Homo sapiens: one gene and its partners. The protein of the gene in region 1 purifies or fractionates together with the protein of each later gene. This does not show direct contact. Each region holds a gene or a part of one and is shown in the gene's direction. Other genes may lie near its edges.

Region 1 (3,652 bases):
TCATAATAACAAAACCTAACATTTATATAATAGCACTTACTATGTACTAGGTTCTATTCTAAGTGTATTACATATATTAACTCATTTGATGTTCATAACAAAACTATGAGGTAAGTACTACTATTCCCCCCTCATTATAAACGAGAAAAGTGAGGCATACAGAAAGTAAGAAACTTTCTTAATGCACATATCTAGTTAGTGGCAGGTTCATGGTGCACAATCTTTTAACCACTATAGTATTCAGATTAATAAATTTAAAAAATAGTATCACCAGCAAAACTCTGAATTCTTTCTGAATGCTATTTTTTCCTTCTGTTCTCCTTGAATTTTGGTGGTGATATTATTGTTCAAACTTATTAAATTCTATGTTTGGAGTTAAGATTGAAACACCTTTTAATGCAACGCTGATACTTTAAAACCTAAATGCCTTTGAATGGAGCTTGAGAGTGAGGAACCTTTTTGGTAAGGATTCCTTTCTTTATGTTCCTGAAGCAGTTTTTTATTCTCTGGTATTTTGGGAACAAAGTATCCATTTAATTACTTCTTTTTGTGGTCCTGTTGCTATGCGCTTCTCAAGTGCAAAGACTGTTTCATTCATTTTCTAATCCCTAGATCCTGGCATGGGTCACGGCATATGATAGATTCCAGACAGCTATGTATGTGTGCATTTCAATGTCTGCTTCTACCTGTATCCAGACACACACAAATACACACACACACACATTTGCACATACATGGTTTCCTGAATGCTGAATTTGAATTTCGTTGAATTTATGCAAAAGAGCACAGGGCAATGAACCAAGAATGGGACTGGGAATCTGATCCTTACACTGTCACTGGCCATTTATGAGAAAATGAGCACATGGCACAACCATTTTGAACTTCCATTTCCTCATATTTAAAAGGAAGTCTGTACTATAAGATCGCTAAGACCCCTCTGGATTTAGGAATCTGGGAGGAGGCATAATGTGATTGAACCCAAAGTATTAGCTTTCATATGAATATAGAAAAATATCATCATGTATCTTGACTGATAATACAATCTCAAAGACAAGTTTCCCTGTACTTTTCAGGGCTATTTTTTAGCCCAGTACCTTATGGATGACTTCACAAGAGATCCACTGTATATCCTGGACAACAACCACACACATTTGCTGCTCGTGGACAATGGCTGTCATGGACATCCCACTGTCGAAGCAAAGCTCCGGAATCAGCTAGAGAAGTATATCTCTGAGCGCACTATTCAAGGTCAGTGGTTAGGAGGTAGGACACTAGAAGTGTACAATAACCACAGCAGCCACAGCATCAACAACAATCACTACCAACTATTGAGTGATGCGTGAGAAACACACCTGATCAGGTATTTTTATTGCCAAAGAACTGTTATTTCTCTTAATTTTTCCAACACATCAGGAATGCTTCTGCCAGGGTCAATGTGGTATGTACCCTTTAACATGCTAAAGGCAATGATAAATACGGCCATCTTCCATTGTGGTTTGTTAGTATCAAAAGCTGGCTGTCTTCTTCTGGTAGATACCATTTAAGAACAAATACGATCTACAATGACAAATATGAGTTTATGAAACAACGCAATTAGCTAGGATAGAAAAGATAAAAACCAACCTGCTAGTTTAACAATGGTATGGTTTACTTTTTTGAATCTTGGCTACTTCTGAGTAACAGAAAACAGTGGTCTCAAGAGAAGAATGCAACAGTTGAGTGAAAGCCATTATTTGCCGTGGTTGAGTGACATGTACTCTCTCTCTTCCTGTGGACAGGGTATTGAGATGTGTCCTGCTGTGGAACAAGATTACCTTGTGATTTAATGATAGACATAATGACAGGAACTTGTTGGAAATGTTGTCAATTATTTTCCTTTCACAATTGGACATACATGAAAGAAGAAACTATATATGCAATAAACTGTTGAAAGACCACTAGTTATGCAAAGTTCTCACTCAAGCAAGCATAGGATTATAGGAAAGCATCATTATTATAAGGATAAACTTAAACCTAGTTTAATTTATAGGTGCAATGGTAAATCATGCACAGGCTTTCAGTATTCAAATATGTATTTTAAATATCAATGACAAATTGCAACATGACCCATGTCATGCTATTACTAGTGTGGAGCAAAAAGACTCATCCGTCTTTAATGAGTGGATAATGTTCAAGTCCGTGAGATGTGAAGCTATCTCTCCACACCCTAGGCTCACAGGGCAGAAGCTCTTGGTCCAACTTTTCACAGAGGTAGGTGAGTATTTCTAATGAGCTCAAAATATGCTTTACTTTTTATATTTTACAGATTCCAACTATGGTGGCAAGATCCCCATTGTGTGTTTTGCCCAAGGAGGTGGAAAAGAGACTTTGAAAGTGAGTCCTGATTTAGTTTTCTAGAAGGTTGGCTAATAAGCCTATCCAACAAATTTGTATTTTCAAGGATTTGGGCTCATCTAATCTAACCTAATTGATTTTACTGCAGCAAGTAGGTAGTGTTTTCCCTCCACATACTGTTCCCCTAACAGACTCCGGTTATTCCTCAGTCAAGAAGATTTGGGAGGAGAATTTCAGTGACATGAATAACCTGTGTACTTAGTGTTGGCCTTGACAGTCAACCTGCCAAAGAGAAGAGTTGACATTAATTCGGGAGACTTAAAGATTGTAACCGGCATATATATTAGAAAGCTATGGCCAACCTATCTGCATTGAGATGAGCTGTGATCATACACACACAGATTGCCCCCAAACCAGATGTTTCCAGACCACCTAAGGCCCATTTATATGCCACCTGGGGATGCAGGTATGTTGCATGATGGAATTCCAAACCCTAAGTGATTCTGAGATCATGGAAACTTCTTGAATGGTTCTGCACCTGCAACACTGAGCAACTGAGCAAGAATTTGACTTCCCAGCCAATCTGTATGGACTCATTACTGAGTTCATCTTGCCTGCAGTCAGGCTTCTGTTTGACGTTTTTTTGTTTTTGTTTGATAATCCACTTGAATCAAAACCTTTTATTTATTTATTTGTTTTTAACTTTTAGGGTCAGGGGTATATGTGTAGGTTTTATGTATAGGTAAATTGTATGTCACAGGGGTTTTGCATACAGATTATTTTATCACCCAGGTAATAAGCATAGTACCCCATAGGTAGTTTAAAAAAAGTTAGTGTGACTACATTTTAGTAAGTATTGTAAACAATTTTCAAGAGCTCATTTTTCTAGGAATAGCACATTACAAGAAAGTCATTTTTAACTCATCTTTTTCATGAATTTCCGCAATGATTTGCATATTCCTCCTTTTACCCATCCTATTTTACCTCTAAGACAGGGAATAGATTAAAGATACCTGGAGCTAAAAGTAAGTGCTGGCAAAGTTATCTGGAATCATCATCTAGTACTTCTCATTATTCTTTTATGTAACAATGGCTGTTTTCTTCATCCATTCAACAGATATTTATTGAGTACCCGCTATGAAATTTACAATTGAGATCATGGTTAAATAAAAATATTCAGGGAAACATTAAAATAGAGATTTTTTTTCAGTGTGTGATTGTCAGTGTATTAAAACCTTTTTATGCCTAGTGTTCCATTATTGGAACACTAAGCATGTGGGAGTTATTTATATCCTACTGCTCAAGGTCATCACCAAGG
Region 2 (3,652 bases), on another chromosome or scaffold:
AGCGTGAGGTCTTGCACTCCGACCTGGTGATGTGTGTGGTGATCGCCGTGCTCACCTTCGCCATCAGCGCCAGCACCGTCTTTATTGCCCTGAAGGTTTGTGTGGCATGGGCCGCTGCTGCCTCTCGCTGTCTTGGCGGGAGCCTGCTCAATCTGAGTGCCGTGGGCAGCCCCTCCCCGGCCTGTGCCAGGTGGCCCTCTGTGGTCCCTTGGCCTGCTCCCATCAGCTGAGTCTCTGGCCTCTCCCTCCTGCAGTCGGTGCTGGGTTTCGTGTTGTACGCACTGGCTGGGGCCGTGGGCTTCTTCACACATTACCTGCTGCCACAACTCCGCAAACAGCTGCCCTGGTTCTGCCTGTCACAGCCCGTGCTGAAGCCGCTGGAGTACAGCCAGTATGAAGTGCGCGGTGAGTGCCCACCCCTGATGGCCAGGCCTGGGCAGTGGCTCGGGCTGCAGCCTGGCTGGTGGGAGCTGTGGTCCTCTCGGCTCAGGAGTGCCAGCAGGGGGCACTCGCTGCCCACACTACCCTTTCTGCTCCCTCCCTGCCCTCTGTGTCCGTGTTGCCCGGCTGCGCTCTCCACCGACTCTTCTCCTCGTGCCCTGCTGTGCCCTTCCCTTGCCTGTGTTGCCCTGGTCCTGCCCTCCTTCCTGTCTGTGAGAAGACGGAAGAATTAGAACCCCAGGGCCCTGAAGGGATCTCTTGTCCAGAATTAAACACTGATCACCAGTGGACCAGAGCTGCCTGGAGCACATCTTCACTGGGCTGCATAATGGTTTTTAAAAAATCCTGGAGCCTCTATTTTAGCATCTCGATTTGAGATATGAAGATCCATGTTTCTTGAGTTTTTCTTAAACGACAGAAGATTTTGCTTCCCAGACTAGCATCCCTCTGTGGCTACAACCAGCCTGAACCGAGGGGTCTGCCCTTTAGAAGGGCCCAGCTCACGGGCTCACTGTGCACTCAGGCCCTAGCCAGCCTGCTGTACGTAGGTGTTTGCGATTTCATCATTGGCCTTGTTTTAACAGACAGCAGAGCAGAGCACCTGCCATAAAGCAAGCCTCGATGTGCTAAGTGCCATGTGGAGCCCTTGCCCTGCTGGGGCTCGCTGCTCCCATTTGAGCTGCCACAGATCAGCCCCTCCCCCCAGGGTCTCCGAGGAGTCAGGACCGCACAGCCTGCCCTCCTAGGGAAGGACTTCCTCAGGGAAGGCAGGCATGTGGAAGCCAGGTGCAGAGTCCTGGCCTCTCCACACAGGTGCCGCCCAGGTGATGTGGTTTGAGAAGCTGTATGCTGGCCTGCAGTGCGTAGAGAAGTACCTCATCTACCCCGCCGTGGTGCTCAACGCCCTCACGGTGGACGCCCACACAGTCGTCAGCCACCCGGACAAGTACTGCTTCTAGTGAGGACCACCCCACCCTCAACGATCCCATCATCCGCTTTCCCTTTTGATCCGTGGGGAAACTGAGGCCTAGAGAGGGAATGAATCATGTCTAAGGTTGTTTAGCAAGCTAAAGCAGGACCCCAGCTCCTGACACGCCATCCCAGGAAGTGGTTGCTTCTTCAAAGGCAAATGTGTTCCCACCACTCCCTTTGGAAGAGCAGAGACTAAGAGTCACGGGCCCAAAAGAGCAGGGACCAGCCCAGCAGAGCAGAGGCCAGGGGTTGCTCTCCGGCCAGAGTAGGCGAGGGATGGGACACCTATACCCACTGCCCCGGTCCCCTACCAAGCACCCGATGCCTGCCCCTTGCCCACAGCTGCCGGGCGCTGCTGATGACCGTGGCTGGGCTGAAGCTGCTGCGCTCAGCCTTCTGCTGCCCCCCACAGCAGTACCTGACGTTGGCCTTCACCGTCCTGCTCTTCCACTTTGACTACCCGCGCCTCTCCCAGGGCTTTCTGCTTGACTACTTCCTCATGTCCCTGCTTTGCAGCAAGGTGAGTTGGTGGCTGTGGCCCAGACCCCAGGCTGTCCAATGGGAGCAGAGCCAACTTCTGCCTGGGTGGGAAGAGAATTTCCTGAGGGCCTGTGGCCACCGCTCTGTATCAGCCCCGTGGGCCTTTGCAGCAGCCTCTCAAGGAAGGGGTTACTTCCACCCTCTACAGAGAGGAAGCAGGCTGAAGGAGGTTGAGGGACTTGCCTCAGGCTTCCAGAGAATTGGTGGTCAGCCAGGATTTGAACCCAGGCCTGTCTGACCCCACGACCACCTCCTCAGAAATGGTTAGGGTAATCAGGACCTGGCCTTATCCTCTGGACGCAGACCTCTGAGTTCCACGCTCTTTTGCCACCCTGGATCCAGAGCAGTCCGAGCTGAGTTTCAGAAGCCCCTAGTGCCTGGGTGTGTATAGGTGCTCTGCCGGCTGTGGCATTGCCACGGCTTGGGGGGCTCTTTGAACTAAGGAACCATGCTCCTACACTCTACTGGAGGCCAGCAGTGGTACCTGGAACCCCAGGCAGGCCTGAGCCTTTTTCTTCCTCACGTGGGCATTCTGTTCTTGTTTTCTGGCCTGGCCCAGGATGGCGGTCATCCACACTGCGTACCCTCTGAGGGCAGGGCCTGTGGCTGTTCTCAATTTTCAGTACTATAGTCTAGCTTCAGCCTCACCAGTGACCTAGTGGCGTGACCTGAGGAAGTCATTTATCTTCTCTGTCTTCACTGAACCTCAACTTTCCCATCTGTGAAAAGGGGCCAGCAATAGGAATAAGAAGCTCACAGGGTACTTGTGTGAACTAAATGGCCACCGCCCCCTTTGAGCTCAGGCAGGGGTTGCTAATGGCATCAGGCGCCTTGAGCCATGTCCAGAGCACAAGGGCTGGCAGTGACCTTGAGTTTGGCCCCCGTGGGCCAAGCCAGTGCGATGACCCAAGCCTCTGAATGGGGCCTGGCATCCGGGGGCTTCCATGAGTGACCCTGCATGTCTTTTTTCTTCTCCCTGTTGGCCCTGCCAGCTGTGGGACTTGCTGTACAAGCTGCGTTTCGTGCTGACCTACATCGCGCCCTGGCAGATCACCTGGGGCTCGGCTTTCCACGCTTTTGCCCAGCCGTTTGCCGTGCCACGTATCCAGCCTGTGTTTGGGTGGGGGTGTGCAGGGAGGGCTGTGGCCTGGGGCAGTGGGGGGTGGTGGGGGGCTGGGAGGTCCTGTTGCCCGCCGCCTCCTTGACTGTGGCTCAGACTCGGCCATGCTGTTCGTCCAGGCCCTGCTCTCGGGGCTCTTCTCCACGCCTCTCAACCCACTGCTAGGCAGTGCCGTCTTCATCATGTCCTACGCTCGGCCCCTCAAGTTCTGGGAGCGCGACTACAAGTGAGTCTCACAGGAGGCGGGAGCATGCCCAGCAGGGCAGGAAGGGAGAGGTTTGGAGCCCAGGCTGGAGGCCACCCACAGAGGGGCCCACAGCAGGTATGGGAGGGCTTGGTCACAGTGGGGACACATGAGGCGGCAGATCCAATGCAGGGAGAGCCTGCACCAGGCCAAGGCTTCAGGCTCACAGCTTGGGGATAGTGGGGTCTGGGGATGAGCTTAGCCTCCCAGCTTCTTGGCTGTGTGTCCTGTGTGAGTCCCTTCATGTACCTGAGCCTCAGTCTCCTCATCTGCCTGCATAACGGGGCTGTCCTGGATGGCGTTGACCTTGTGGCACAGGGAGAGCATGAGCAGGG
Region 3 (3,652 bases), on another chromosome or scaffold:
CTACAGAAAAAAAAAATTAGCCAGATGTGGTGGCAGGTACCTATGGTCCCAGCTACTTAGGAGGCTGAGGCGGGGGGATCTCTGGAGCCCAGGAGTATGAGGCTGCAGTGAGTTGTGATGGCGTCACTGCACCAAAACCTTGGGCAACAGAGCGAGACCCTGTCTCTAAAAAAGAAAAAAAGTCCGCTAAGATAAAGAACAATGCTAGTGTGTATAGACTAATAGAACCCATTTAGCTTTGAACATGTTCTACTTATTGAATTTTAATTTAAAAAACTATGCATCAGATGTGTTTTAAAAGATGATCAGTGGTGTTCGACTTCAAAGAAGAAATTGAATGGGAGATGGGAAATAGGTATGATACACCATCTGGCATAACATTGCATTGAAGGATACTGGGTGATAGACTGGCAGAGCACCAATGATTAGAATTTAGGTTTTTTAGAGACGAGATGTAATCTGTCTCAAAGACAAAAAGAAATTTTTGTTAATCTGGACAATTCTGAGTTAATTTTTAGTTAGGGTTAGGAGTTCTTAAATTTAGGAAGAAATTTTGCTAGAACCTAAAAGCTGGAAGGACGCCCAGCTCTCTAGGCTTTGCCTAAAAGTTGAATTCTGGGACTAAATTCTGTAACATCTTCGTGGATCGTTCTGCTACTGTGGGAAAGACAGCATTTTGTTACAGCAGAGACCAGAATTGAGAAAACCAGAATAAAAAAACTGTTCCCTCTGACCTCAGTGTTGTGATCTTTGACAGGTCACTTCTTTCCCTCAGCATCAGTCTTTTCAGTTATAAAATGAAGAGGTTGAACTCAAGACCTCTGAAGATCCTTCTAGTCCTATGCTGATCATCATTTTTTTTTTTTTTTGGTTTTCTTTTTTGAGACAGGGTCTCACTCTGTCATCTAGGCTGGAGTGTAATGGTGCAGTCTTGGTTCACTGCAACTCCTGCCTCTCAGGCTCAGGCGATTTCTCTTGCCTCAGGCTCCCGAGTAGCTGGGACTATAGGTGCATTCTGCTGCACCCGGCTAATTTTTGTATGTTTTGTAGAGACGGGGTTTCGCCGTGTTGCCCAGGGTGTTCTTGAACCCCTGAGCTCAAGGGATCCACCTGCCTCAGCCTTCCAGAGTGCTGGGATTACAGGCCTGAGCCACCACACCCGGCCTGATCATCAGATTCTAATTATGGAGTACTCCTACCTGACAAAGGAACTCGTTCTAGTTCATGATAGAGTAGATTGTAAACTGTGTTAAGCCACAATTCTTTTCCTGCTAGCTTCTGATTGTCACTTCTAGGATAGCTCATATATTATCTATAATTCTTCCCCTTTTGAAGTTAAATGTCTTTATTTGTAAATGACTTTTTTTTTTTTAAAGGGCCATCTGCCATCCTGGTTGCCTTTTTTTTTTTTTTTTTTTTTTTTTTTTTAATGTTCCCTAGTTTGTTAGAGACTCTCTTAAAGTGTCCTTCCTGCCCAGAGCTGGGGACAGTGATCCACTGGAATAGTGTACTCTGCCCAGTGCAGAATATGGGATATAGTTCTCTATAGTCCTGTATTTATGCACTTGATATGTGGATTCTAAGTGTTTGTTTCATCTTGTTTATTTTGGACTATTGTACAGGCTTTAAAAGATCTTACTAAATTCCACTGTATTAGTTTGTGTATATCTACAAAGAACCTGGACAGATAGCAGAACTTTATTCTCTCATCAGATACTGATCATTTGTCTGATTTGGGCAAGCTGTTTAATGTCAAGCTTGAGTTTCCTTAACTATAAATTGAAGTTTTAAAGTAGATGATCCCTGAGGTCTTTTCCTACCCTCAAATCCTATGACTTTGAGACTAGATGGTAACTTAGGTTTCCTCTAGTTTTAAAATCCTGTGAGTCTAAGATTGAGAGAATGTTAGGATTGAACAGAGCACATACTGTGTGTCAGGGATGTGCAACGGTTCCAGAGGTGAATAAAGGGATAATAGTCCCTCCTCTCCAGGAGCTGGCATCCTGTTTTTGGTATCAGGCTGTAGTGCCAGAGGGTGACATGTACAGCTGGGGCTTCTAGGAAGATTGGGAAGAAGTGGGGAATTGACCAGTACAGTTGACTCATGAATAACAGAGGTTAGAACTTCAACCAAATGCCAATAAAAAAGAGCGTTTACAGAATGTGAAACATTTATATGGAGGGCAGATGTTTCATATATGGGAATTCCACAAGGCTGACTGTAGGACCTGAGTATGTGTGGATTTTGGCATATGGGGGAAGTCCTGGAACCAGGTCCCTGTGTTTACAGAAAGACAGCTGACTTAAAAAGCTGTCCTGCCTGAAGGATGAAGGAGTTTGCCTGATGGCCGGGTGGCAAGACAGGGAGTGTAAAGGAGAGGAAATAGTTTATACAAATGCACAGACGCTGGAATAGTCAGGGAGTTACATGTGGGCCAGTATTTTGAGAATGCAGTCTGGTCATGGGCCAGACTGTGAAGAGCTTTATATGCCATATTCAAATTGTATACTGTAGGTGTCTTAGTTGACTTGGAGGACATGTGAACAGGCAGATCACATTAGGCTTCTGTTTGGAAGACAGGTTTGGTAGCTGTACGATGAATGGGTTGGAAGAAAAGGAGACTAGTGGCAGGGAGTTCAGATGTCAGAATTAAAGCAGTGATAGGGGTAGGGGATAGAGAAGGGGTAGATGAATGTGCTGGAGCTAATCAGAAGCATAATATGAGCTGTTGTGTAGCTTGTGCATGGCCAGTTTATCACATTCTGTTCCTGTCAGCAGACTCACCCACACCATGATGCTTTATCTTTGAAATGCATGCAGGAAGAGAAGAGGGCAGAGCAATCACTGAAGCAGGTCCATGTGTTCTTCCTTGGGGTCAGGACACTGCCATCCTGCTCCTCCCAGAGTCCTTTCTTTTTGTGCCTCTTGGTCCTCTTTGTTGTGGTGTCCCTTCCTCCACTGCCTGTTAATTTGGCACTCTGCTGTGTAATATCAATAATTGACAAAAGTCAGCCATTGTTATAGTCAGTAGTCACACCAGCAGTCTTCTGAGTGCTTATCAGAGAAGTGAAGTTAGGTGGTGGGTTTGAGAAGGATTTGATTACACACACGGGCATAATTCCATAGTGGATCATTAAAGAGAAAGTAGACAAGGATGGTGTCAGGAGTGGTATCTACTGTAGTCTTTGGTGTCATTTCATAAAAGTAAGTGTTCGGGCTGGGCGCGGTGGCTCACACCTGTAATCCCAGCACTTTGGGAGGCCGAGGCGGGCGGATCACGAGGTCAGGAGATCGAGACCATCCTGGCTAACACGGTGAAACCCCGTCTCTACTAAAAATACAAAAAACTAGCCGGGCGTGGTGGCGGGCGCCTGTAGTCCCAGCTACTCAGGAGGCTGAGGCAGGAGAATGGCATGAACCCTGGAGGCGGAGCTTGCAGTGAGCCGAGATCGCGCCACTGCACTCCAGCCTGGGCGACAGAGCAAGACTCTGTCTCAAAAAAAAAAAAAGTAAGCAGGCTTAGTGGACTGGACTCCTCTCACTGTTAGGGCAGGATGGTGAGAGAAATACACAGAATTCCATTACAGGGGGCACACACGATCACAGATATAGTTTTGATTACTTTTCTTTTTTTTTTTTTTTTTTTCCAGG

Evidence for each region.
Region 2: the proteins of TRPM8 (region 1) and PCNX3 purify together in Homo sapiens (affinity purification with mass spectrometry; 2 studies listed by BioGRID and IntAct, with this or other methods). This does not show direct contact.
Region 3: the proteins of TRPM8 (region 1) and CHAMP1 fractionate together in Homo sapiens (co-fractionation; one large-scale study listed by BioGRID). This does not show direct contact.

Annotation. Positions count from the first base shown.
Region 1 is NC_000002.12:233,944,783-233,948,434, forward strand, and holds part of TRPM8 (transient receptor potential cation channel subfamily M member 8), read left to right. Parts: intron 1-1,073; coding exon 1,074-1,248; intron 1,249-2,305; coding exon 2,306-2,373; intron 2,374-3,652.
Region 2 is NC_000011.10:65,625,650-65,629,301, forward strand, and holds part of PCNX3 (pecanex-like protein 3), read left to right. Parts: coding exon of another isoform or gene 1-2; coding exon 3-95; intron 96-254; coding exon 255-405; intron 406-1,025; coding exon of another isoform or gene 1,026-1,051; exon of another isoform or gene 1,052-1,248; intron 1,249-1,254; coding exon 1,255-1,399; intron 1,400-1,755; coding exon 1,756-1,933; intron 1,934-2,945; coding exon 2,946-3,054; intron 3,055-3,169; coding exon 3,170-3,299; intron 3,300-3,652.
Region 3 is NC_000013.11:114,317,459-114,321,110, forward strand, and holds part of CHAMP1 (chromosome alignment-maintaining phosphoprotein 1), read left to right. Parts: intron 1-3,651; 5' UTR 3,652-3,652. UniProt on the Homo sapiens protein: Required for proper alignment of chromosomes at metaphase and their accurate segregation during mitosis. Involved in the maintenance of spindle microtubules attachment to the kinetochore during sister chromatid biorientation.